Regions from separate parts of the Homo sapiens genome. Here region 1 is linked to region 2. Evidence: fine-mapped expression QTL. A gene starts in region 2. The other region holds a variant in brackets. All regions are shown on one strand. Distances are between the middles of the regions.

Evidence for each region. PIP is the estimated chance that this variant, and not a neighbour inherited with it, causes the effect.
Region 1: its variant is fine-mapped to the expression of GNA15 in whole blood (TOPMed, PIP above 0.99). The same link has a PIP of 0.9 or more in blood mononuclear cells.

What each region holds. Positions count from the first base shown.
Region 1 is chr19:3,156,506-3,168,630 of GRCh38, reverse strand. It overlaps GNA15 (G protein subunit alpha 15), which reads right to left. Exons shown (of 7, transcript NM_002068.4): 6 at 10,750-10,903; 7 at 4,882-5,838. The coding sequence ends at 5,612. Among named protein-coding and RNA genes, the nearest start is that of GNA15-DT, 7.4 kb to the right of the region's middle. RefSeq lists enhancers at 4,360-5,220, 5,221-6,082, 5,886-6,180. The variant G/A (reference allele first, on the strand shown) is at 5,173.
Region 2 is chr19:3,128,330-3,144,485 of GRCh38, reverse strand. GNA15 (G protein subunit alpha 15) reads right to left here and starts at 8,453. Exons shown (of 7, transcript NM_002068.4): 1 at 7,891-8,453. The coding sequence starts at 8,035. GNA15-DT (GNA15 divergent transcript) reads left to right here. Exons shown (of 4, transcript NR_110670.1): 3 at 1,293-1,423; 4 at 2,056-2,910. It also overlaps the pseudogene RPL35P10. RefSeq lists an enhancer at 2,440-2,940.

The sequences.
Region 1 (12,125 bases), 26 kb before region 2:
TAAATAAATAAATACAAAAATTAGCCAGGCACGGTGGTGACTACCTGTAATCCCAGCTACTTGGGAGGCTGAGGCAGGAGAATCGCTTGAACCGAGGAGGTGGAGGTTGCAGTGAGTCGAGATCGTGCTGCTGCACTCTAGCCTCAGTGACAGAGCAAGACTCTGTCTCAAAAAAAAAAAAAAAGAAAGGATTGCAAATATCAGTGTGAATTCAGGATCTCATGATTTATGCAAAAAACATAAAAAAACCCTGTCCTAACTTTCCACTGAGACAATCCCAGAGCAAGGAGCACCTAGTGCCCAGATCGTGGCTTCTAAAGATCACCTCCCTCCCCCTACAGCCCCTTGCTGAAAGGATCCAGGGAACCTGGGAGGAAGGGTTGATTCCAAGAGTAGGGCAGGAGATGAGCCTGGAACATCTCAGTGTGCCAGAGAGGGAGGGCGTGATCACAGAGGGAGGAGGACCTGGCAAAGAACACAGGAGCCAGCTCGGAGGGGCTGCTGCCGGCCAACCCTGGGTTAGAAATGGATGGATGACCTCAGCACATGACCCAGCAATTCTGTCGCTAGGGTCACACTCAAGAGGAATGCAAGCATGTCCACTCGAAAACTCACACCTGGCCGGACACAGGGGCTTATGCCTGGAATCCCCGGGGAGGCTGAGGCAGGAGGAACCCTTCAGCCCAGGAGTTGGAGGCAGCAGTGAGCTGAGGTTGCACCACTGCACACCAGCCTGGGTGACGGAGCAAGACCTTGTCTTTAAGGGGAGTAAAAAACAAACAAAACAAAACAAAAAGGCCAAATAGTAAATATTTTTGGCTTTTGGGGCCAGACAGTATCAGTGGCAGTTACTCAATTCCATGGATGCAGGAACAGCCTGCGTAGACACAGGTACATGAATGGACATGACCGTGTTTCAATAAAACTTTACAAAAGCAATTGAAGTAGTATTTGGCCTGTGGGTAGCAGTTTGCCGGCTCCTGACCTGGATGAAAAATACAGGGGAATACATTGTAATGGTTTTGTAACTTCTGTAGGTTTCAAATATTTTTGCACTAAAAATAAGCGAACAAAAGATGTGTTTCCGCAAAGACTTGGAACCAACCCAAATGTCCATCAATGATAGACTGGATTAAGAAAATGTGGCACAGGCCGGGCGTGATGGCTCACGCCTGTAATCCCAGCACTTTGGGAGGCTGAGGCGGGCAGATCACAAGGTCAGGAGATCGAGACCATCCTGGCTGACACGGTGAAACCCCGTCTCTACTAAAAATACAAAAAATTAGCCGGGCTTGCTGGTGGGCGCCTGTAATCCCAGCTACTCAGGAGGCTGAGGCAGGAGAATGGCATGAATCCGGGAGGCGGAGCTTGCAGTGAGCCCAGATTGCACCACTGCACTCCAGCCTGGGTGACAGAGTGAGACTCCGTCTCAAAAAAAAAGAAAAAGAAAATATGGCACATATACACCACAGAATACTATGCAGCCATAAAAAAGGATGAGTTCATGTCCTTTGTAGTGACATGGATGAAGCTGGAAACCATCATTCTGAGCAAACCATCACAAGGACAGCAAACCAAACACCGCATGTTCTCACTCATAGGTGGGAACTGAACAATGAGAACACGTGGACACAGGGTGGGGAACATCACACACCGGGGCCTGTCGTGGGGTGAGGGGAGGGGGGAGGGATAGCATTAGGAGAAATACCTAATGTAAATGACGAGTTAATGGGTGCAGTAAACCAACACAGCACATGTATACCTATGTAATAAACCAGCACAGTTGTGCACATGTACCCTAGAACTTAAAGTATAATAATAAAAAAAAAGACAAGATGTGTTTCCTCACTTGGTGCTCAGATTGTGGTCTCTAAATATCATCTCCCATTCAAAGGAAAGAGGGCTCCTTGGAGAAACGATCCAGTGCAGATCTGAAGCTGACAAAGTAAAGGATGAGTTAAAAGCATCTCGCTGTGCCCAGTCAAAAAACTCTTAAGACCCACTGGGTCATGGCTGGGCACAGTGGCTCACGCCTGTAATCCCAGCACTTTGGGAGGTCGAGGCGGGAGGATCACCTGAGGTCAGGAGTTCGATACCAGCCTGGCCAACATGGCAAAACTCCGTCTCTACTAAAAATATAAAAATTACCTAGGTGTGGTAGCGCATGCCTGTAATCTCAGCTACTCAGGAGGCTGAGGCAAGAGAATCGCTTGAACCCAGGAGGTGCAGGTTGCAGTGAGCTGAGATCACACCACTGCACTCCAGCCTGGGTGACAAGAGTAAAACTCTGTCTCAAAAAAAAAAAAAAAAAAGAGGAGGCTGGGCGCGGTGGCTGACGCCTGTAATTCCAGCACTCTGGGAGGCCAAGGCGGTTGGATCACGAGTTCAGGAGATCGCGACCATCCTGGCTAATACAGTGAAACCCCGTCTCTACTAAAAAATACAAAAAATTACCCGGGCGTGGTGGCGGGTACTTGTAGTCCCAGCTACTCAGGAGGCTGAGGCAGGAGAATGGCATGAACCCGGGAGGCAGAGCTTGTAGTGAGCCGAGATCGCATCACTGCACTCCAGCCTGGGTGACAGAGCAAGACTCCGTCTCAAAAAAAAAAAAAGAGGAAAGAGACTTAAGAGACACAGCACCCAAGCGCCACGCACGGGCTTTGTTTGGGTCCTGACTCCGACCAACCAATGGTGAAAAGACATCCGCAACGTATGATCGCCAGGGATGAGCCACTTTGTCATGATGAACCCAGTCAGGTGATGCCCTGAGTGGCTCTGACATCCCTTTCTGTCACCAGCAAACCTCACACCAACCCAACCTGAGGAACGGCTCAAGAAACAACCAAGCAAAACTCCTCCGACGTGTCACAAAGGAAACTGAGGCACTGCCCCAGAATGAGGAGAGGGAGGCAGCTCATGGCGATGTGGGATCCGGGATTGGATCCTGGTCCAGGAAAGGAGGACGGGAGCGAGAACCCGCCACATTCTAGTAAGGTCTACACACAGGTTCGTTCATAGGACGCTCGCTGATGTGAATTTCCTGGGTTGTACTAGGGTTACGTAAGAGGTAAGAGGAAGCTGGGTGGAGGGCATTTGGGAACTGTGTACAACTTCTGCAACTTTTCTGTGAGTCTAAAATTCTTACAAAACAACAACAAGAGGCAGAGCGCGGTGGCTCACACCTGTAATCCCAGCACTTCGGGAGGCCGAGGCGGGCGGATCACAAGGTCAGGAGATTGAGACCATCCTGGCTAACACGGTGAAAGCCCGTCTCTACTAAAAATACAAAAAATTAGCCAGGCGTGGTGGCGGGCGCCTGTAATCCCAGCTACTCGGGAGGCTGAGGCAGGAGAATGGTGTGAACCTGGGAGGCGGAGCTTGCAGTGAGCCGAGATCACACCACTGCACTTCCAGCCTGGGTGACAGAGTGAGACTCCGTCTCAAAAAAAAAACAGAAAGATAGGATGTGGTGAGAAGGGCTGTCACCACTGAGGTCTTCCTCCCTGAAACCCATCACCCCAGTCTGACCAGCAGCAAAATGTCAGACCAAACTCAGTGGAGAGGGTTTCTATAACATACTTTTATATTTATTTATTTATTTATGTATTTATTTATTTATTATTTGAGACAAGGTCTCACTCTGTCGCTCAGGCTAGAGTGCAGTGGCAGGATCTTGGCTCACCGCAACCTCCGCCTCCCGGGTTCAAGCAACTCTCATGCTTCAGCCTCCCAATTAGCTGGGATTGCAAGCATGCACCACCACGCCCGGCTCCTTTTTGTATTACAAAATACCTTTTATAGGTTCAAATGTGGCTCCCCTACAAAGATATGATGAAGTCATAACCCCCGGTATCTGTGAATGGGACCTTATTTAGAAATACGGTCTTTGCCGATGTAATCAAGTTAAGATGGGGATGACAGGCTGGACCCTGATCCAGTGTGACTAGTGTTTTTATAAGAAGAAAAATTAGGCCAGGTGTGGTGGCTCATGCCTGTAATCCCAGCACTTTGGGAGGTCGAGGGAGGCGGATCACTTGAGGTCAGGAGTTTGAGACCAGTTTGGCCAACATGGTGAAACCCTGTCTCTACTAAAAATACAAAAATATGGCCAGGTGTGATGGCACACAACTGTAGTCCAAGCTACTCAGGAGGCTGAGGCAGGAGAATCACTTGAACCTGGGAGGTGGAGGTTGCAGTGAGACGAGATTGCGCCACTGCACTCCAGCCTGGGCCACAGAGCGGGACTCCATCAAAAAAAAAAAAAGTAGCCAGGTGTGGTGGCGGGTGCCTGTAATCTCAGCTACTGCAGAGGCTGAGGCATGAGAATCACTTGAACCCAGGAGGCAGAGGCTGCAGTGAACCGAGATCGCACCACTGCACTCCAGCCTGGGCAACCAAGTGAGATTGTCTCAAAAAACAAACAAATAAAAAACCACAAATGTGTTCAACGTAGGAACAGGCTCCTGCCTCTGTCAATTCCAGGTGTGTGAGCTTAGTCAAATTACTCCACTTCTCTGCGCCCCGGTTTCCTCACCTGTAAAGTGGGGTGCTACGGCTTGCACCCCAGAACACTGCCCTGAGGATAGTAAGAGGCCTTCTCAAAGCTGGGTGGGGGCTGCTACTGGAATTTCAGGTCAGTAGCCACGGAGGAGTCTGCTTCAATGTCCCCCCCAGCCTGGGAGGGAGGTTGGACTCCACGTCCCGGCTTGCGGGACTCACAGCCTCCACAGTTCTGGGTACCATGGCCAGGACAGGTGGGTAGACAAGAAGTATAACTTTTTTCCTTCCTACTCCACGTTGCTCCCCGCACTGTAAGCACTGCCCCCGGGACACGTAAGCCGAGAAAGGAATGCAGAGGGGATAAACAGGACGCTGGCGACGCAGCCTCTAAGAAATCTTTAATTTCAGCCCGCACGGAGCCCTGCAGAAGGTGAGGGAATAAATACAAAAGGTTAAGATGCAGCATGCCCAGCCCCCAGCCTGCAAGGGATGGGGGGATGCTTGTGGGCCGCGATTTCTCTCGTCCGCAAACCGGGGCAGGACACGCTGTGAGCCACCGAGCTCTGAAAGTGACAGTGTTTTCCAGCGGTCTGTTACCCCTTGCAAAGGGAAGTCCCTGCACCCCTAGTCCACAGGTTCCTGGAAGGCGTTCCTTCTCCTGTCCACTAGAGT[G/A]CGCCAGAGTCCACGCCCGAAGGCGCCTGAAGGCTCTACTAGCCCCATCCCAGGGTGTGCGTCACCCACAGAGGGTCCCAGAACCCTGCCCAGGAGGTGACACGCCCGGAGATGGGGCTCCTGAGAGATGCCCACCCACCCAAGTCCTCAATCCCCTGATTTCTTCACCTTTTCATCCACCCTGGCATCCCAAATGGCCGTTTTGCTCCTTCCCTTTCAAAGGAGGGAAACTGAGTCAAGCAAGGGCAGGAGTACCCTGGGGGGCGGCTGTCCTGGTGAGAGGCAGAGAAGAGAGCGGCCAGCAGCGGGCCGTCCGTCCCCCGACTCCCTTGCGTGTGGGCCGAGGCTGGAGAGATAGACCAGGGACACTAGGGGTCCCTGCAGCCACTCCCACCTCCCACCCGCCCGCCGGTGCCGCCTGCCCCAGGTGGGGCCTGGGTCACAGCAGGTTGATCTCGTCCAGGTAGCGGGCGAGCACCGAGTCCCGCACGTCCTTGAAGACCTTGCGGATGTTCTGTGTGTCTGTGGCACATGTGTAGTGGCTGAAGAGGCGTCGGGATCGTGCGCCCTTCTTGCTGCCCTCGGGGCCGTCCACGCACCCGGTGTACATCCTCGTGTACATGTCCAGGATGAACCTCTTGGCTGCCTCAGCATCCTGCTTAGGGCCTGGGGAAACAGTGTGGGAAGGGGGTGAGGACCCTCCCTCTTTGGACCCAGGGGGCCTCTGGAGACCCTCTTCCCTGTAACCAGCACTGAAGGGACCCAGGGATCGCGCCTGTCATTTTTCTGTGCGTTGACTCCATCTTTTGTAGTCATAGCTGGTCACACGACTCCGGCCCAGCCAATGGGAACACAGGAGATTGTCTCACACGAGTCATGTGACCTGAAATGGACCAATGAGACCCAGCTCTGGGACTTCGGGCAGAACTGTGTTAAAGAGAGACACTCTCTTGGCCTCGCTTACAGCCAGTGCAGTTGGAAGACTGGAATCGCATAGACAAATATCCCAGGACTGTGAAGATGGCGGCATCAAGGCCAAACGAGGGGAAGAGAGTCCTCTTTTTTTTTTTCTTGAGATGGGGCCTCGCTCTGTCGCCCAGGCTGGAGTGCAATGGTGCAATCTTGGCAGTAGCTGGGATTACAGGCGCCTGCCACCATGCCCAGGTAATTTTTGTATTTTTAGTAGAGATGGGGTTTTGCCATGTTGGCCAGGCTGGTCTCGAACTCCTGACCTCAAATGATCAGCCCGCCTTGACCCCCCCAAAGCGCTGGGATTACAGGCGTGAGCCACTGTGCCCAGCCCTGCATAGGGTTTTAACATGAAGATTAAAGAAGCTTTGTAGAGTGCTTCCACCAGTGCGGTAGATGTGTTAGCTGCTGTTATCAATTTTATTATTATTATCATTATTATTATTATTATTATTTTGAGACAGAGTCTCACTCTGTCACCCAGGTTGGAGTGAAGTGGCATGATCTCAGCTCACTGCAACCTCCACCTCCTGGGTTCAAGCGATTCTCCTGCCTCAGCCTCCCGAGTAACTGGGATGACAGGCCCCCGCCACCACACCCAGCTAATTTTTGTATTTTTAACAGAGATGGGGCTTTGCCATGTTGGCCAGGCTGGTCTCAAACTCCTGACCTAAAGCGATCTGCGCGCCTCAGCCTCCCAAAGTGTGGTTTCTTATTATTATCACAAATATTATTTAGCACAGTGGAGGGTAGGGCTGGGAGTCAGCAAAGAGTGCACCAGTCACTTGTGCTGGGAGACAAGGATGAGTCATGGGTGGTTCCCTTTGACCTGAATGAAAAAAATATCTACCTTATCCTGTTCCCAAATTCTCTAAACTATGAGCTGATTCCCAGGGCTGCTTGGCAAGGAAGAGGGGCTATCCAGGCCACCATCCTGGAACAACTTGACGTCTATCTCCCAGACCCTGAATCTTGTGGGTATAATTGGCTAAAATTGGCCTCATGGGCTCTGAGACATGACAAGACCAGGGATCAAAACCTGGTGACTTCACCAAAGTTTATGTTTACTGATTGTGGACCTGGTGTCAAGCATGTACTAAGGACTCATCTACTATGGTTGCTTGTATATTGAGGTGAACAGTGTCCCCCAAAATTCATGTCCACCTGGAACTTCAGAATATGACTTTTAGAAATCGGATATTTGCAGATGTAATTAGTTAAGTTAAATTAGGTCATGGCCAGGCATGAGGGCTCACGCCTGTAATCCTAGCACTTTGGAAGGCCAAGGCAGGTGGATGACAGATGTGTGGTTGGGCCCAGGAGTTCCAGATCAGCCTGGGCAACATGGCGAAACCCTGTCTCTACAGAAATATACAAAAATTACCCAGGTGTGGTGGTGTGCGCCTGTAGTCCCAGCAACTCAAGAGGCTGAGGTGGGAGGATCACCTGTGCCCAGGAGGTTGAGGCTGCAGTGAACTGTGATCACACCACTGGACTCTAGCCTGGGCAACAGAGCAAGACCTTGTCTCAAAAAAAAAAAAAAAAAAAAAAAGTGGTCATACCAAAGTATGGGCCCTAAATCCAATGACTGGTGGCCTTATAACAACAGGAGAGGACACATAAAGGCATGGTGAGAAGACAGCCATGTGAACATGGAGGCAGAGATTGCAGTGATATGTCTACAAGCTAAGGATTGTAGGCCACCACCAGAAGCTGAGAGAGAAGCATGGAATGGATTTTCCCTTAGAGCCTCCAAAAGGAACCAACCTTGCCAATACCTTAACTTTGGACTTCTGTTGTTTCCTGTTGTTTTAAGCCACCCAGTTTGTGGTACTTTGTTACGGCATCCCCAGGACATGAAGGCAAGTTATCTCCAAGATGGCTGCCGTCACTTCCTTCCCTCCCTGTATGCATGTGTCATGCTGCCTTCAAGAGATGGAGTCTCTTTCTTTTGAATCCGGGCTGATATGAGTGATGTGCTTGACAAATAGAATGTGGCAGAGTAACGTCTGACATTTCTGAGGCTATCATGAGAAGCAGCTTCCACCTGGGCTGAAGTCTGTCTACCCTGAGGCAGCCATATTGTGAGTAAGCTCAAACCATGTGAAGAGGCTGTGGATCATGAGGCCCCAGATGGAGACAGAGAGAACAGGGGAGGTGGAAAAGGAGAGACAGACTAGGAGAAAGGGGAGGAGAGAGAGATGAGATGGGAGAGGGAGGCAGGGAGAGACACAGAGAGAGAGGCCAAGAGTGCCAAGAGCACCAAGGCACCAGACATATGGGGGAAGAAGCCATCTTGGAAGTTTATCTCCAATCCCATAGAGCCCAGCTGATGTCACATGGATCAGAGATGAACTTACCCAGCTCAACCTTTCCCAAATTCCTGACCCACAAAATCATAAGCAAAGGAAAATGACCAGTTTAAGTCACTAAGTTTGGGGATGGTTTGTTACTCGGCAGTAGCTAAGCAGGACACCCGCCACCACACTTTATCCTCACAGTGGTGTTCTGGGGAAAGTGCTAGTGAATATGTACCTTCCCCACGTTGGTCCCTGGATTAACCACAACTCTGCCTCCCCTTTGTAAAATATACTAAGTGGTGCCCAACACTAGATGGTGTTTCTCTGTAGTTGCCCTGTGGCCCTTTCACCCTCTGGATGGACTGAGAGTTTGTTCCCAAACCTGTTTTTGCCCATTGTACGTGTCTTGATTCATATGTAATTAAAAGAAACGTTATGCAAATCTGTAGCTACAAGTGCCGCATGAAAGAAGGTCATTGTATTACAAAACTAAGCTGTGTGCTTTGGAAACATTGTTCAAAGCTCTGCTTTAAAAATTAAAGAGAAAGGCCAGGTGTGGTGGCTCACGCCTGTAATCCCAGCACTTTGAGGCCGAGGCGGGTGGATCACCTGAGGTCGGGAGTTCAAGTCCAGCCTGACCAACATGGAGAAACCCCGTCTCTACTAAAAACACAAAATTAGCCGGGGTGGTGGCTCATGCCTGCAATCCCAGCTACTCGGGAGGCTGAGGCAGGAGAATCCCTTGAACCCGGGAGGCGGAGGTTGCGGTGAGCCGAGATTGTGCCATTGCACTCCAGCCTGGGCAAAAAGAGCAAAACTCCATCTCAAAAAAAAAAAAAAAAAGAAAAGAAATTAAAGAAAAAATAGACTGGGCACGATGGCTCACGCCTGTAATCCCAGCACTTTGGGAGGCCGAGACAGGTGGATCATGAGGTCAGGAGATTGAGACCAACCTGGGTAACATGATGAAACCCCATCTCGACCAAAAATACAAAAAACTAGCCAGACGTTCTGGCGGGCACCTGTAATCCCAGCTACTCGGGAGGCTGAGGCAGCAGAATGGTGTGAACCCAGGAGGCAGAGCTTGCAGTGAGCTGAGATTGCGCCACTGCACTCCAGCCTGGGCAGCAGAGCGAGACTCCGTCTCAAAAAACAAACAAAAAAAAATTAAAGAAAAAATGGATTAAAGAAAAAGAAATTGCTATCCAATTAGGGATAGATGAGATCACTATGAAAGATTAGAAAAAGAAACGTTATGGCCAGATGCGGTGGCTCACGCCCGTAATCCCAGCACTTTGGGAGGCTGAGGTAGGTGGATCACTTGAGGTCAGTTCGAGACCAGCCTGACCAACATGGTGAAACCCCATCTCTACTAAAAATAGGACAGGAAACTACTAAAAATTAGCCAGGCTTGGTGGCACGTGCCTGTAATCACAGCTACTTGGGAGGCTAAGGCAGGAGAATCACTTGAACCGGGGAGTTGGAGGTTGCCATGAGCCAAGATCGCACCACTGTACTCCAGCCTGGGTGACAGAGTGAGACTCTGTCTCAAAAAGAAAAAATAGAAGAAAGAAAGAAAAGAAAAAGAATCATTCTTAAAACCTAGGCAGATTCTGGAAATAGTAGACAATCTTTCCAGAAGTGCTTTACAACAGTGACCTCTACATAGCAAACCCATGCTTGAAGGATCTTGGCTCAAACCCCAAATGTTGGCCAACAAGCATAAAATAAAATGTTTGGCCGGGCATGGTGGCTCCTGTCTATAATCCTAGCACTTTGGGAGGCTGAGGCGGGTGGATCAGGAGGTCAAGTGATCGAGACTATCCTGGTCAACATGGTGAAATCCCGTCTTTTCGTACTAAAAACACAAAAATTAGCTGGGCGTGGTGGCGCGCACCTGTAGTTCCAGCTACTAGGGAGGCTGAGGTAGGAGAATCGCTTGAACTCTGGAGGGAAAGGTTGCAGTGAGCCGAGATCACGCCACTGCACTCCAGCCTGGTGACAGAGCAAGACTCTGTCTCAAAAATAAATAAATAAATAAAATGTTTAAGGTGTACGTGATATGCTACGTGTTTTTAGAATTCCTCACTTTACTCAGTTCCAAGGGCCTCTGCTATTTTATTCCATTCCACAGAAGGGAAAACAGATTCAATGAGGTCGGGCAGTGGATGGAGCTGAGTCTAGAACGCGGGTCTGATCCTATGTGAAAGTTCCGGTGACTCCAGGCTGAAGTAGAGTCTGGATTAGCATCTCTCTTCGGAGCTGCTTTTGGGAGTTGAAGGGTATAGAAAGTTCTAGAATTACTTACCCTGGAAACTGGGGAAATAGGTAGCCAGGTGGGAGGTGGGGATTTTCTCCTCCAGGATGTCGGTTTTGTTGAGAAAGAGGATGACGGATGTGCTTTTGAACCAGGGTAGTTCCAGGATAGTCCCAAACAATGCGAGGCTCTCCTTCATGCGGTTCTGTGTTGGGGGCAGAAGCAGGTTAGTGCTTCAACCAGCCAGGTGGGACAGGAAACCCTCCCATCGCGGAGACGGGGCTGTTGGCTCCAGGGGCATGGGCTCACCCCTATCTGCCTGGCTGGGGCTGAGGCGGGTGTGCCCGTGTTTCCATATGGACAGCTGCCTGGGTGTGCCTGACATGGTTTTGTGCCTGTGCTGGTTGGAAGTGTGTCCTCCCGAAATTCATGTCCCCCCAGAGCTTCAGAGTGTGACCTTATCTGGAGAGAGATTCTTGAACTCCTGGCCTCCCAGCGTGCTGGGGTTATAGGCATGAACCACTGCACCTGGCCTGGAGATAGGGTCTTTGAAGAGGTCGTTAAGGTGAGGCAATACTAGAATACGGTGGCCCTCAAGTCCGTGACTGCTGTCCTCATAAGAAGAGGGAGACCTGGCCGGGCGCGGCAGCTCACGGCTGTAATCCTAGCACTTTGGGAGGCCAAGGCGGGCAGATCACCTGAGGCCAGGAGTTGGAGACCAGCCTGGCTAACATGGTGAAACCCCGTTTCTACTAAAAATACAAAAAATTAGCCGGGCATGATGGCAGGTGCCTGTAAACCCAGCTACTCGGGAGGCTGAGGCAGGAAAATCGCTTGAACCCGGGAGGCGGAGGTTGCAGTGAGCTGAGATCGCGCCACTGCACTCTAACCTGGGCGACAAAAGCGAGACTCCATCTCAAAAAAAAAAGTACAATAAGGTCTCAAATGCCTTGTGTTATGGGGTACATCATATTTCCCCAAAATTCATACGTTCAAGACCTAACCCCCTAGAACCTCAGTTTGTGACCTTCTTTGGAAACAGGGCCATCACACGAGGAATTAACCCAGATGAGGTCGTACTGGAGTAGGGTGGGCCCTGATCCTAGACGACTGGTGTACTTATTAAAAGAGGCTATTGGCTGGGCACAGTGGCTCACGCCTGTAATCCCAGCACTTTGGGAGGCCGAGGCGGGCGGATCACGAGGTCAGGAGATTGAGACCATCCTGGCTAACATGGTGAAACCCCCTCTCTTCTAAGAATACAAAAAAAAAATTAGCCGAGCGTGGTGGCGGGTGCCTGTAATCCCACCTACTCCGGAGGCTGAGGCAGGAGAATGGTGTGAACCCGGGAGGCGGAGTTTCCAGTGAGCCGAGATCGCGCCACTGCACTCCAGCCTGTGCGTGTGCGTGCATGTGTGTGTGCACGC
Region 2 (16,156 bases):
TCCCCCAGGTCCACAATCTGAAATTCTCTGATGCAGAGCTGTGAGAGCTTCAGATTCCAGAATTTATTGCATGTTAGGATGGGGACATGTCAACTCACTAATATTCCTGCAGCGGAATGTAGGAATGGGAGTCAGTGCAATAAACAAACATCCTCCCACCCGTTTCTTTGAGTTTCTCATGGAGACACTATGGGGGACCATCAAGTTTTTGGAGCTTTGGCTATTTGGGGCTAGTAGCAGAGGGAATTGTGAGCTTGCTGGCCCTTGACTGGGTGTCCCTGGTGAGCTAAGAGCTGGAGTCCCACCATCTGTCCTGAGCCTCACCACGAGAGGGGGACAACTCTTTTTTTTTTTTTTTGAGAGGGAGTCTTTCTTGCTCTATCGCCCAGGCTGGAGTGCAGTGTCGCGATCTCGGCTCACTGTAAGCTCCACCTCCCGGGTTCACGCCATTCTCCTGCCTCAGCCTCCCAAGCAGCTGGGACGACAGGCGCCCACCACCATGCCCAGCTAATTTTTTTTGTTTTTTTTTAGTAGAGACGGGGTTTCACCATGTTAGCCAGGATGGTCTCGATCTCCTGACCTTGTGATCCACCCGCCTCGTCCTCCCAAAGTGCTGGGATTACAGGCGTGAGCCACTGCGCCTGGCCAAGAGAGGGACAACTCTTAGCCCTGTTTCCATGTGGGGAAACTCAGTCTCGGGGCCGTTGAGGGAATTGCTGTGGGTCGCACAATTCCTTCAATGGTCCTGGTGAGTGGCAGACTGGGATTCAAACTCAGTTCTGTTTGAGTCTAGAGCCTATGGGCTTTTATTTTTTATTATTATTATTATTTTTGAGACAGGGTCTCACTCTGTCACCCAGGCTAGAGTGCAGTGGCTTGATATTGGCTCACTGCAACCTCCACCTCATGGGTTTCAAGCGATTCTCCTGCCTCAACCTCCAGACTAGCTGTCATTACAGGTGTGCACCACCGTGTCCGGCTAATTTTTGTATTTTTAGTAGAGACAGGGTTTTGCCATTTTGGCCAGGCTGGTCTCGAACTCCTGGCCTCAAGGGATCCACTTGCCTTGGCCTCCCAAAGTACTGGGATTACAGGCATGAGCCACCTTGAGCTTATGGGTTTCTAAATTATTATACCTGGAGGTTCCTTTACCCTGCCTGAATGATTATAACAATCATAATAAAAATCACAGCTAGCATGATTTAAATCTTACCGTCTTCCCAACCCCGAGCCCAGAGACTCTACGGATCCCCAGTTAATCCTCACAGATTCTATGATTTTCCCATTTGCAGATGAGACACAGAGGACCAGAGAGGTTTAGTGACTTAATTTGGGTCACACAGCAAGTGGAACCCCAGGGGAGTAAACTTGGGGTCGTGTGAGTCCTTCACCAACAAAATGGGACACGGCCAGTCGAGCTGGGGTAGGTGTCATTAACACGTCTGTTAAAGCAATGTTTTTACAGAGTCTGGGAGGCTCGACAGCTCCTTGGGGTGTGGCATTGAGCCCAACTGCCGATGACTGGACTTTTTGAGCTCCTGTCCCCCAATTGCCTTCCAACCCTCAGATCTTCTTCTTCCTTTTTTTTACTTTTTGTTTTTATTTTTATTTTTTGATATAGAGTCTGGCTCTGTCACACAGACTGGAGTGCAATGGTGTGATCTCAGCACACCGCAACCTCCTCCTCCCAGGTTCAAGCGATTCTCCTGCCTCAGCCTCCCAGGCAGCTGGGATTAGAGGCGTGCACCACCACACCCGGCTAATTTTTGTGTTTTTAGTAGAGACGAGGTTTCACCATGTTGGCCAGACTGGTCTTGAACTCCTGGCCTCAAGTGATCCACCCCTCCTCAGCCTCCCAAAGTGCTGGGATGACAGGCCTGAGCCACCGCGCCCAGCCAGGACTGGACCTTTTGGGCTCCTGTCCCCCAGTTGTCTTCCAACTCTCAGATCTTAGTTTGCCCCAAAGTGCAGAGAACAAACATAAGTCTTGGCAAGCAACAGTTGGCTTTATTTTGTGATGCACTGATTTTTTTTTCCTCTTCTGCTTTGTTATAGGAAATAAATGATAATCCTGTTGCCACCCGCGACACAGATTTGATGACTCAGGGATGGGTCATCACCCGAAGCCTGAAGAGCTGCGTGAGAACCCCCTCTTTGCAATCCATTGCTGTCCTGAAGCCACAAAGGATTCTGGGACCTCTCCATTGCCCCCCGACCCCCAGACATCCCCCAGCTCCTGGATAGAAATGGTGGGAGTGATCTGTTTTAGGATACCCCCAAAGGCCATGCGGCCCAGACGGGAAGTTCCTGCTTCCTCCTGGGCACGGAGGAGGACAGGAGGAAGTGGAACCGGCAGATGCCAGGAAGGAACTGGGTTAACCGTGCCAAGCCCCAGTCATCACAAGGCAACTGGAGCCAGCTATGTGCACAGAGTCCAGCACCAGGCCCTCACAGGAAACGCAGCTGCTGGGGAAGTGGGGAGCCAGGCCAGGCAGCCGCAGGGGCAGGAGGCTCGGCCTCTCAGTCCCGCTCTGGCTCAAACTAGCTGCTGACCCCCAATCAATCCTGCTGCCTCCTTGGGCCTCATTTTCCCCATCTGGCACTGGGGTTCTGTGGTGTTTCTGTCCCCCAAGGCAGGCGAACAGGGCAGTCAGGAGCATGGACTTTGGAACCAGAATTCTAGGTGCGAGTCTCAGCTGTGTGACCTTGGGCAAGTCGCTCTGCCTCTCTGAGCCTCAGTTTATCCTTTGGGGGAAACTAGGAGTGCCTGCCTCAAAGTGCTAAGAACAGGCCGGGCACAATGGCTCACATCTCTAATCTCGTCACTTTGGGGAGGCCAAGGCAGATGGATCACCTGAGGTCAGGAGTTCGAGACCAGCCTGGCTAACATGGTGAAACCCCGTCTCTACTAAAAATACAAAAATTAGCTGGGCATGATGGTGCACACTTGTAGTCCCAGCTACTCAGGAAGCTGAGGCAAGAGGATTGCTTGAACCCAGGAGGCAAAGGTTGCCGTGAGCCGAGATCGCACCACTGCACTCCAACCGGGGTGATAGAGTAAGACTCTGTCTCAAAAATAAAAATAAAAAATAAAATGTTTAAAGTGCTAAGGACATAACTGGTCCCTTTCACAGCTTTATTTTCCTGTTTTTGTTGTTGTTCACTTTCTTTTCTTTTCTTTTTTTGTTTTTGTTTAGAGACTGGGTCTCGCAATGTTGTCCAGGCTGGTCTTGAACTCCTGGGCTCAAGCAATCCTCCTGCCTTAGCCTCCCGAGTAACTGGGACTACAGGTATGTGCCACCATACCCGGCTCACGGCTTCATTCTGACTCTCCCCCTTCCCCAATATGAGGGTTGCTTCATGTCAGGGACAGACCCACCCCCACCCTGGTCCTTTTTGCCATCTTCCTCAAAAGGATCAGCCACCTCCAGGTAAAAAAAAAACAGCTTTTGGATTCAATTCCTGTTTCCAAGAAGGGACAGAGGTCTGGAGGTTGCCCTCAGACCTGTCTCCAGGGATGAGGTGGTTTAAACCACAGTCCACAGTGCTACATCAGTGCCTGGGGACATGGATGTCATCCCCTGCCCTCCATCAGTAGAAGGGGCTTCCTGCTTTGAGGCTGGCTGAGTAGTGCCCAGAGTGGTATGTGGAAGGGACTTTCCCAGCTCCAGGAAGATATGATACAGTGTCTGGGGGAAGTTCTCCCCAAAAATGATTCATTCATTCATTCATTCATTCATTCAGCATTTCTTGAGCATCTACTATATGGCAGGCTCATTGTACACCTGTGCTAGATGCTGGAGACACAGGGATGAAGAAGACAGATGTGGTCCCTACCCTTTTGTTGCTTGCTGTATAGCTGGAGAGATAAACAATAAACAAGTGAACAAATAGTGAGGGCCAGGAAGAAAAATCAAACAGAGTAAGGGGAAGGAGAAGATAGGACTGTCTTTATAGCTAGGGTAGTCAGGGAAGACTTCTCTGAGGAGGCGACACTTGGGTTGAGACCTACATGGAGTGAAAGGGCCAGCCAGGCAAAGGTCAGGGATAAATGACCTTGAGGTATTCGAGGAAAGAGCACTAAAAGTGATAAACCCCTAGCTTGATAGATCAAGAAAAAAATGAGCAAAGGCAGAAATGATCGATACCAAGAGCAAAAGAGAGGACATCACTGCAGATCCTACAGACAGTAGCAGGAGAACAAGGGAACGTTATAAATGTTATGCCAATAAATTTGATAACACAGGCAAAATGGACAAATTATTTGAAAGACACAAATGATCAAAACCCACACAAGAAGAAGTAGATAGCCTAAGTAGCCCTATTTATTTAAAATAATAAGACATATCGATATGATACGTCATAATGTGACATAATATGACACATTAATATGTCAAATATAGATAGATAGATAGATAGATAGATAGATAGATAGATAGATTTTTTTTTTTTGAGATGGAGTTTCACTCTTATTGCCTAGGCTGGAGTTCAGTGGTGTGATCTTGGCTCACTGCAACCTCTGCCTCCAAGTTAGAGCAATTCTCCTGCCTCACCCTCCCAAGTAGCTGGGACTACAGGTGCGCACCACCACGCCTGGCTAATTTTTGTATTTTTAGTAGAGATGGGGTTTCACCACATTAGCCAGGATGGTCTCCATCTCCTGACCTCGTGATCCACCCTCCTCGGCCCCCCAAAGTGCTGTGATTGCAGGCGTGAGCCACCGCACCCAGCCCTGATTTTTTATATTTTTAGTAGAGACGGGGTTTCATCGTGTTAGCCAGGATGTTCTCAACCTCCTGACCTCATGATCTGCCCACCTCGGCCTCCCAAAGTGCTGGGATTACAGGCATGAGCCACTGCACCCGGCATTTTTTTTTTTTTTTTTTTGAGACAGAGTCAGCTTTGCTCTGTCACCCAGGCTGGAGTGCAGTGGCATGATCATAGCTCACTGCAGCCTCAACCTCCCAGGCTCAAGTGATCCTCTCACCTCAGCCTCCCAAGTAGTTGGAACTACAGTTGCGCACCACCATGCCTGGCTAATTATTTTATTTATTTATTTTTTTTAGAGACTGGGTCTTGCTAAGTTGCCCAGGCTGGTCTGAAACTCCTAAGCTCAAGCAATCCTCCCACCTAGGCCTCCCAAAGTGCTAAGATTACAGGAATGAACCACTATGCCCTGCTGAGATATTCTTTTATCTCGTTCAGTAAGAGGGATCAAGGCTAGAGTTGAAAGGGCCCTTGACTGGGTGCAGTGGCTCACGCCTGTAATCCCCACACTTTGGGAGGCCAAGGTGGTAGGATCACCTGAGGTCAGGGGTTCGAGACCAGCCTGGCCAACATGGTGAAACCCCATCTCTACTAAAAATACAAAAATTAGCCAGGTGTGGTAGTGCGCACCAGTAGTCCCAGCTGCTCAGGAGACTGAGGCAGGAGAATCACTTGAACCCAGGAGGCGGAGGTTGCAGTGAGCTGAGATCTCACCACTGCACTCCAACCTGGGGGACAGAGCAAGACTCAATCTAAAAAAAAAGAAAAAAAAAAAAAAAGAGGCTGGGCGCGGTGGCTCACGCCTGTAATCCCAACACTTCGGGAGGCCAAGGCGGGTTGATCACCAGGTCAGGAGTTCGAGACCAGCCTGGCCAACATGGTGGAACCCCATCTCTACTAAAAATACAAAAAAAAAAAAAATTAACTGGGCGTGGTGGCGCGTGCCTATAATCCCAGCTACTCAAGAGGCTGAGACAGGAGAATTGCTTGAACCCGGGAGGCGGAGGTTGCAGTGAGTTGAGATCGCACCACTGCACCCCAGCCTGGGTGACAGAGCAAGACTCCGTCTCAAAAAAATAAAAATAAAAATAAGAAAAGAAAAAAGAAAGAAAGGGCCCCCAGTGAAGGTGCAGTTCCTGGGGGTCCCCACCATCCCACTCGATGTTCTCTCTCTTTCCTCTCGGGCGGCCTCTTCCCACTGAACGAGGAAAGGACGATAGCAACCATCACGGGATGATCAAGCTCTTTGCCCGGGGCAGACAAACGCGAGTCCAGAAGACTTGAGACCTTCTCCAGCCCCCAACCCAGAGCTCGGGGATCCCAGAAGACCCTCCCAGGCTAGCATCCCGGGCTTAGGCCAACGGGGCCATAATCAGGGAAAGGTAATTGGGGAAACAAGCTACGGGAATGAGAAGACCCCGAGGTTTCAGAGATCAGAATTTTTTTTTTTTTGAGACGGAGTTTTGTTCTTGTTGCCCAGGCTGGGGTGCAATAGTGCAATCCTGGCTCACTGCAGCCTCCACCTCCTGGTTTCAAGCGATTCTCCTGCCTCAGCCTCCCCAGTAGCTGGGATTACAGGCACATGCCACCACACCCGGCTAATTTTTTTGTATTTTGAGTAGAGACGGGGTTTCGCCACGTTGACCAGGCTGATTTCGAACTCCTGGCCTCAAGTGATCTGCCCGCCTTGGCGTCCCAAAGTGCTGGGATTACAGGCATGATTTATTTATTTATTTTATTTATATTTATTTATTTATTGACAATGAGTCTTGCTCTGTCATCCAGGCTGGAGTGCAGTGGCCCGATCTCAGCTCACTGCAACCTCTGCCTCCTGGGTTCAAGCGATTCTCATGCCTCAGCCTCCCGAGTAGCTGGGATTATAGCTGTGTGCCACCATGCCCAGCTAATTTTTGGTTTTGTTTGTTTGTTTATTTGTTTGAGATGGCGTCTCACTCTGTCGCCAGTCTGGAGTGCAGTGGCATGATCTCAGCTCACTGCAGTCTCCACCTCCTGGTTTCATGCAATTCCCCTGCCTCAGCCTCCCGAGTAGCAGGGACTACAGGCACGCACCACCACATCTGGCTAATTTTTGGTATTTTGGTAGAGATGGGGTTTCACCGTGTTGGTCAGGCTGGTCTCGATCTCCCGACCTTGTGATCCACCCACCTCGGCCTCCCAAAGTGCTGGGATTACAGGCATGAGCCACCATGCCTGGCAAATTTTTGGTATTTTAGTAGAGACGGGGCTTCACCATGTTGGCCTGGCTGTGTCTTGAACTCCTGACCTCAAGTGATCCCACCCGCCTGGGCCTCCCAAAGTGCTGAAATCACAGGCTTGAGCCACTGCACCCAGCCAGAGTTCAGAATCTTGAACCGTTACTGACGTCGACTCCCCCATCTGAAGCCTCCGCATGGAAGCCATCACCCTGTTTTGTTTTCTCCTAGATAATTCTTGTTGCCAGAATTATTTTATCTGCTTATGAGTTTACAGACTAAATGTCTTGGCTCCTTCACAGGAAATGAGATCCAGGAAGACAGAAATATCTTCCCCTGTTTGGCTGCCTCGTTCCTGGGAGCTACCCAATAAATCTTAAATGAATGAATAATGAATGAATGAACCAATGAACCAATCAATCCATCCTTTCTAGCCCCCAAAGGAGCCCTAGACAAGCCCTCTCCAGCCATGGCAGGGAGGTAAAGGCGAGAGGGAGCGTCCTGGTGAAGGAGAGGCTGGAGCCGGCCCCTCCCTTACGGGTGGGCTGGCCAGAACGGGTTGCACACCTGAGCTCATCATTCCCTCGCCATGACACAGACAGGTAGGGCGTGCTGGGCCTGCCCGGCAGGGGCCCGGTAGAGCCACGTCTGCTATTGTATATGCCCCACACAGTGGACAGGCCTGGGCACCTGGCCGCTGGTCGCACGTTGGACAAGGAACTTGGCTTCTCTGAACCTCAGTCTTTCTCATCTGGAAAATGGGTTCCAGGCTCCCCATTCCCTGGGAGGAGGCGACGGCTCCACGATGCCAATGTCTGACCTAGCCTGATCCGCCTCCTTGCCCCGACACCCCTGCCGGCTGGCCACCGCCCACTGCCCACCACCCACCGCCCACCGACCCTGGACTCACCCAAAAGCAGCAGCTTCAGCTCCCCGCGGTCCTGCTTCTTCTGCTCCAAGAGGATCCTGTTGATCTCCTGGTCCACCCGGGCGGCGGCCTTCTCATCCTCCGTCAGGCACCAGGGGCAGCAGCGCCAGGTCAGCGAGCGGGCCATGGTGCGGTGGCCTCAGTCGGCACCGGGTGGCATCGCCCCCGGGCCCCTGCTGGCCAGGGCAACCCCCAGCCCAGCCGGCCCTGGAGAGGGCTCCGGGCAACCGGGTGCGCAGGGAGGCTGCCTTTTCCTTGGGGGTCACCCCCCAGGGACCTAGACTTCCTTGCCTGAAACACCCAGGAAGCCCGGCTCGGCGGTGGCAAGGCTTGAGTGCTGGGAACAGGGTGGGGACGGGAGGAGGTGGGGAGGCCAGGGCTCCCCGCCCACCTCCAGACCTGCTCAGACCCGGCCCGACAGGTTGACGGTGAAGGGTGCCAGGAGAGGGTGAGGTGGGGGCCCCAGGGAGGGCGGGGCGGTGGCGGGAAAACCCCCACCGCAGACTGGGTCCTGTGTGACCAGCAGGGCCCTTCTTCCTCCTTCTGGAGAAGGGGCGGATTCTCCTCAGGCTTCACCCGGAGCTGTCCCCCTCCTCGGAGCCAATCAGGAACCGTCAGACCCGTGCTACTGCTGATACATTATATATATATCATATATATATGTGTGTGTATATATATATATGTGTATATATATATATATATATATATATATATATATATATATATATATATATTTTTTTTTTTTTTTTTGAGACAGAGTTTCACTCTTATTGCCCAGGCTGGAGTGCAGTGGCAGGATCTTGACTCTGCAACATCTGCCTCCCAGGTTCAAGCAATTCTCCTGCCTCAGCCTCTCGAGTAGCTGGGATTACAGGCATCCACCACCACGCCGGGCTAACTTTGGATTTTTAGTAGAGAAAGGGTTCCACCACGTTGGCCAGGCTGGTCTCAAACTCCTGACCTCAGGTGATCCACCCGCCTCGGCCTCCCAAAGTGCTGGGATTGCAGGCATAAACCACCACGCTCGGCCCTTCTGATATATTTTTAAGAAACAGCTCAGGCCAGGTGTCATGGACTGTTTCCAGCGACTCTGCCCTGACCTCAGGTGATCCACCCTGCAGAGGTGGGCAGCTTGCCTGAGGTCAGGAGTTCGAAACCAGCCTGGCCAACATGGCGAAACCCTGTCTCTACTAAAGATACAAAAATTAGCCGGGTTTTGGCTCACATTAGCTGGTTTTACACTCACATCACCCTGTATAGTTACTACTGTCATCCCTGTTTGACTGATGAGGAGGTTGAGGCATAGAGCAGGGGAGTGACCGGTGGGGCTGGCACAAGGCAGAGCCGGGAGCCTATCCCTCACCTGCGGGGCCCCAGAGTCTAGACGCCTACCAGGCAGATTCCAGGCAGGGCCATCCCTTCATTGTGCGTGCATTCATGGAGCGCCAACTGTGTGCCAGGCACGGTAGCCAAGAGACACAGATCCCAGACCTCCTTACCTAAGGTTCTAGTTAAAGAACAGATAATAAAATAAATTTTAGGCTGGGCCTGGTGGCTCACGCATGTAATCCCTATACTTTGGGAGGCCAAGGCGGGCAGATCACAAAGTCAAGAAATCGAGACCAGCCTGGCCAACACGGCGAAACCCCGTCTCTACTAAAAATACAAAAATTAGCCGGGCGTGGTGGTGCACGCCTGTAGTCCCACCTACTTGGGAGGCTGAGGCAAGAGAATCGCTTGAACCCGGGAGGCAGAGGTGGCAGTGAGCTGAGATCGTGCCACTGCACTCCAGCCTGGCGACGAAGTGAGACTCCATCTCAAAAAAAATAAAAAATAAAAGAATAAAAAATTTGGCCAGGTGAGTGCGGGAGCTCACATCTGTAATCAAAGTACTTTGGGAGGCCGAGGCAGGAGGATCACTTGAAGTCAGGAGTTTGAGACCAGCCTGGCCAACATGGAGAAACTCCATCTCTACTAATACAAAAATTAGTTGGGCATGTTGGCACGCACCAGTAGTCCCAGCTACTTGGGAGGCTGAGGCAAGGGAATCACTTGAACCCCGAAGATGGAGGCTGCAGTGAGCCGAGATCATAACACTGCTCTCCAGCCTGGGCAACATAGTGAAACCCTGTCTCCAGAAACAAACAAAACAAAACTCTCCCTCTCTCTCTATGTATATATATACACACACACACATACATATATATACACATACATATATATACACAATATATAGACACACATACATATATGTATATACACATACATATATACACATACATATATATACACAATATATAGACACACATACATATATACACATACATATATACACACATAAAAGTATACATTTTAATATACATATATGTATATTATACATAAAAATATATATGTGTGTATATATATACACACACGTGTAAAATATATATATTTTTTAATACACCTGAGCCCGTTGGATGGTGAAAAATTCTGCCAGAAAAATTAAGCAGAGATGTTGTTGGGGAAGGTTCAAGGTCATTGCTCTAAATGGATCAACAAAGGTCGCACAGACAAGTGATATTCAGGATCAGAAGTCAGACAGGCAGATCGGGTGTAAGAGGGACTTTGGGAGTGGACCTCACTGGTCAAGGAGATCTTCCCAATGAGTGCCATGAGGCCGCCCTGACCTGATCCCTCTGGGACTTCAGGGCCCTAGGGGTGGGCTGGTGGCTGGCAGCTTGGTAGAAACGTTGCTGCTTCCTAGGTACTCAGAGCCAGAGTGTTTGGGTGAAGATTCCCCACCCCCATTGACAGGCTGTAGAAAATTCTAGAAAGTTCTGGATCAAAACTCTCCTCCCCAAGAGATACACGTAATTCTTGTACTTCGGGGGCCTCTGGTCCCTTTACAGATAGGGCAAGGCACAGAGAGGGCGAATTACGTGCCCAGGGCCACACAGCCATTGGCAGCCACCGTCCCCACCTCCTCCCAGACACCAGGGCTCGGTGACAGCCGTTGACGCAGCTTCACCAGCTCAGCACAAACGTGTGGTTTTCTCCACTGTTGATTCATAACGAATGACAGATGGGAAGTACGATAGGGGCCCCCATCTGGTCACTGGGGCTGGCAGGTGCCATCTGCCCACCCAGCCACCCACCTTCCCGCCCCCAACCGGATAGCAGCAACGAGGGGCAGTCCCACCCAGGACAGGCAAAGAAACGCAGAAATAGGTCATGGCCGTGCAGATCTTCCAGGATGGTTGAAACAGAAATGACCAGCAAAACTGGGAGACGAGGCTGAGCCACAGGCCCCACAGGGTGAGCCCAGGGGGCCACTCTCCTAGCATCTCCCTGCGGCATTTTTGGACAGGATACCAGCACCCGCCATCTTCACAGCCTGGACCAGGGTGGCAGACCCTCTGTGGCTCCCGCTGGCTTCAGAATTAATGAGCCGGCTCCCTGGATCCAGGGCCCAGGCTCTGCCCACTTCTCCAGCTGCTGAACAAACCTCCCTTGCGGTTCCCTAAACGGGCTGAGCTACTTCCTTGCCACATGCTGAGCATTTGTCGTGTATTATTAGCTCAGCTGGGAACACCAGGGTGAGCTTGTGTGTGTAGAAAATATTTCTTTCAGAAAACACATAAAACCTGAATGTATTACCTAATAAATTGTTGTGAAGCCGGTATCCACAGAATCCACTGAGGCCAAGACTAAGGACATTTTCAGGCCGGGCGCGGTGTCTCACGCCTGTCATCCCAGCACTTTGGGAGGCCAAGGTGGGCAGATCACCTGAGGTCAGGAGTTCAAGACCAGCCTGGACAACATGGTGAAACCCCGTCTCTACTAAAAATAGAAAAGTTAGCCAGGTGTGATGGTGCACACCTGTAATCCCAGCTACTCGGGAGGCCGGGGGAGGAGTATTGCTTGAGCCTGGGAGGTGGAGGTTGCAGTGAGCTGAGATCGTGCCACTGCACTCCAGCCTGGGTGACAAGCAAGACTCTGTCTCAAAAAAAAAAAAAAAAAGACCTTAGCCCCACAAAGACCCCTAGTGTTTTCCTCATAGTAATCTCTACCTTCCCAGCAGTAACTATCATTCTGACTTCTGTGGTATTAATATTTATTTCCGGGTTTGGGGGGTATTTTTTGCTAATAAGATCTATTTCAGCTGGGCATGTTGGCTCATGCCTATAATCTCAGCACTTTGGGAGGCTGAAGTGGGAGGATTGCTTGACCCCAGGAGTTCAAGACCAGCCTGGGCAACATAGTGAGACTCTATCTCTTTTTTTCTTTTTTCTTTCTTTCTTTCTTTTTTTTTTTTTTTTTTTTTTTTGAGACGGTGTTTTGTTATTGTTGCCCAGGCTGGAGTGCAATGGCTCGGTCTCAGCTCACTGCAACCTCCACCTTCCCAGTGAGACCCCATTTCTAAAAAATAAAATAAAATAAATTAGCCGGGGGTGGTGGCTCATGCCTGTGGTCCCAGGTACTCCAGAGGCTAAGGTGGGAGGATTGCTTAGGCCAGAGAGGTTGAGGCTGCAGTGAGCTATGATTGACCCACTGCACTCCAGCCTGGGTTGACAGAGCAAGGGTCTGTCCCCCCCAAAAAAAGATCTTGTTTTTAATTGTCTAAATTTATGTAGCATTGTATTTACTTTCTTTGGTGTATGGTTCTATGAGTTTATTTATTTATTTATTTATTTATTTATTTATTGAGACGGAGTCTGTCTCTGTCACCCAGGCTGGAGTGCAGTGGCACGATCTCGGCTCACTGCAAGCTGAGCCTCCCGGGTTCACGCCATTCTGCTGCCTCAGCCTCCCGAATAGCTGGGACTACAGGTGCCCACCACCACGCCGGGCTAATTTTTTTTGTATTTTAGTAGAGACGGGGTTTCACCATGTTGTCCAGACTGGTCTCGATCTCCTGACGTCGTGATCCGCCCGCCTCGGCCTCCCAAAGTGCTGGGATTACAGGCGTGAGCCACCGCGCCCGGCCTGGTTTCTATGAGTTTTAACAGCTGTAGAGATTCGTGTAAATTACTGCTATAAACAGGATACAGAATGTAGTTCCATCACCGGAACAACTCCCTCCTGACCGTGGATTGGCTCTTTGTGGCTGTGTTTTTTGTTTGTTTGTTTGTTTTGGTGTTTTTTTTTTTGTTTTTTTTTTTCTCAGCCAGCTGTGCTTTATTGACAACGCGCCACTCGGGCCTTGACCGCGCACTTCCGCACTGGGGACAGCTGCTCGCTCTGCTGCTGCTTCTTGATCGTCAGGTTCTCCTCGTGCTTGCTGAGCGGGCGGCGCACGGCGCGTGTCTTCTTAGGCCGCAGGTGCAGGTGCTTGTACTTCTTGCCCTTGTAGAATTTCCCGAGGTTTTCTTTCTGAGTCTGGTTAATAACCGTGAGAACACGGGCAATGGATTTGCGGACGACTCGGATCTTTTTTTTTTTTTTTTTTTTTTTTTTTTTTTGAGACAGAGTCTCCCTCTGTCGCCCAGGCAGAAGCGCAATGGCGAGATCTCGGCTCTCTGCAAGCTCCGCCTCCCGGGTTCACCCCATCCTCCTGCCTCAGCCTCCCGAGTGAGTAGCTGGGATTACAGCCGCCCGCCACCACGCCCGGCTAATTTTTTTGTATTTTTAGTAGAGACGGGGTTTCGCTGTGTTAGCCAGGATGGTATCGATCTCCTGACCTCGTGATCCGCCCGCCTCGGCCTCCCTAGAGTGCTGGGATTACAGGCGTGAGCCACCGCGCCCGGATCTTAGGGAGCTTGGAGGCCGCGCCGCCCGTCACTTTGGCGACGCGCAGCTGGGACAGCTCCACCTTTAGGTCGTCCAGCTGTTTCAGCAGCTCCTCCTCCTTCTTCCCGAGAAGGTCTTGGGCCTTGATCCTGGCCGTTGCTGCACAGGCCGCCGCCCCCGCTCGCTCCGAGGGAAATAGCTGTTGCTATGTTTTTTATTTTATTTTTTGAGACAAGGCCCTTCTCTCTCGCCTAGGCTGGAGTGCAGTGGTGCAATCATGGCTTACTGCAGCCTTGACCTCCTGGGTTCAAGCGATCTTCCCACCTTAGCCTTCCGAGTACTGCGCACCACCACCATCTAATGTTTTTTTTTTTTTTTTTTTTTGAGACAGAGTCTCACTCTGTCGCCCAGGTTAGAGTGCAGTGGCACGATCTCAGCTCACTGCAAGCTCTACCTCCCAGGTTCAAGCAATTCTTCTGCCTCAGCCTCCCGAGTAGCTGGGATTACAGGTGCGAGCCGCCGTGCCCGCCTAATTTTTGTATTTTTAGTAGAGACAAAGTTTCCGCCCTGTTGGCCAGGCTGGTCTTGAACTCCTGGCCTCAAGTGATCCACCTATCTCAGCCTCCCAAAATGCTGGGATTACAGGCGGATGCCACCGCGCCCGGCCCTAATTTTTTTATTTTTGTAGAGATGGGTTTCTCTGTGTTGCCTAGGCTGCTCAGGAGCTCCTGGCCTCCCAGCTCAGCCTCTCAAAACGTTGGGATTACAGGCGTGAGCCACCGCACCTGGTCCAGAAAGTAGCTTTTGAGACTGGCTTCTTTCAGTTAGCATTTGCGATTCCTCTGTGTTGCCGAGTGTATCAGAAGTTCGTTGCTTTGGATGGTCCAGTGGTATTTCCCTGTGTGGATGCATTCCCCTTTATCCAACCGTGAGGGGCATTTGGTTGCTTCCAGTTTGAGGTGATCATGAACAGAGCTGCTATATACATTTGTGTACATATTTTTTTCTTTTTTTTCTTTTCTTTTCTTTTTTTTTTTTTTTGAGACAGCGTTTTGCTCTTGTTGCCCAGGCTAGAGTGTAATGGCGTGATCTTGGCTCATTGCAACCTCCCCCTTCCATGTTCAAGTGATTCTCCTGCCTCAGCCTCCCGAGTAGCTGGAATTACAGGCATGTGCCACCACGCCCAGCTAATTTTTGTAGTTTTAGTAGAGACGGGGGTTTCACCATGTTGGCCAGGCTGGTCTTGAACTCTTGACCTCAGGTGATCCACCCACCTCAGCCTCCCAAAGTGCTGGGATTACAGGCATGAGACACCACACCTGGCCAATAGTATTTTTGTTGTTGTTGTTTAGCTGTGGTTTGTTACAGATGCCCTTTATCAGGTTGAGGAAGTTCCTTTCTACTCCTAATTTGCTTAGAATTTTTATCATGAATGAAAGTTGAATTGTATCAAATGTATTTTCTTTATCTATTGATATGATCATGTAGTTTTTCTTTCGTCTGTTAATATGGCAAGTTATATTGACTGATTTTCCAATGTTGAGCTTGTCTTGTATTCCTGGGATAAATGCCACCTGGTGGTGAGGTGGTTTTCTTTCTGTATATCACTGGATTTCATTATTTCACTTGCTAATATTTTGTTAAGGATTTTAGTATCTATGTTTTTGAGTATACTGATCTGTAATTTCCCTGTACTGTCTTTAATTTTGGTATCAGGATAATACTGGCCTCTTAAAATGAGTTGGGAAGTATTCCATCCTCTTCTATTTTCTGAAACAGATTGTGAAGAATTTGATGTTATTTTTTCTTTAAATGTTTGATAGGATTCACCACTAAAACCATCTGGGCCTAAAGTTTTATTTTATTTTTCATTTTTTATTGTTGTTGTTGTTTGAGACAGAGTCTCGCTCTGTCACCCAGGCTGGAGTGCAGTGGCATGATCTTGGCTCACTGCAAGCTCTGCCTCCCGGGTTCACGCCATTCTCCTATATCAACCTCCCAAATAGCTGGGACTACAGGCACCCACCACCATGCCCAGCTAATTTTTTCGTATTTTTAGTAGAGACGAGGTTTCACCGCGTTAGCCGGAATGGTCTTGATCTCCTGACCTCGTGATCCACCCGCCTTAGCCTCCCAAATGTTTTATTCTTTAGAAGACTTTAACTTCAAATTCTGTTTCTTTAATACGTATAGGACTGTTCAGGTTTTCTGTTTCTTCCTGAGTGAGTTTTGGTAGCTTGTGTCTCTCGAGAAATTGGTCCATTTCCTTTAAGTTGTCAAATTTATGTGCATACACTTATTTGTAGTATTCCCTTATTATCCTTTAAATTTCTTTAGGGTGAGTAATGATATCCCCTCCTTTGTGCCTGTTGCTGGTAATTTCTTTTTCTCTCTGGAGGGTGAATCTAGACTAAAGGTTTATCAATTTCATTAATTTTTTTCAAAGAACCAGCTTATGGCTTTATTGATTTTTCTATACTGTTTTTCTATTTTTTATTCCATTGATTTCTATTCTATTATTTTCTCTTTAGTTTGTGTT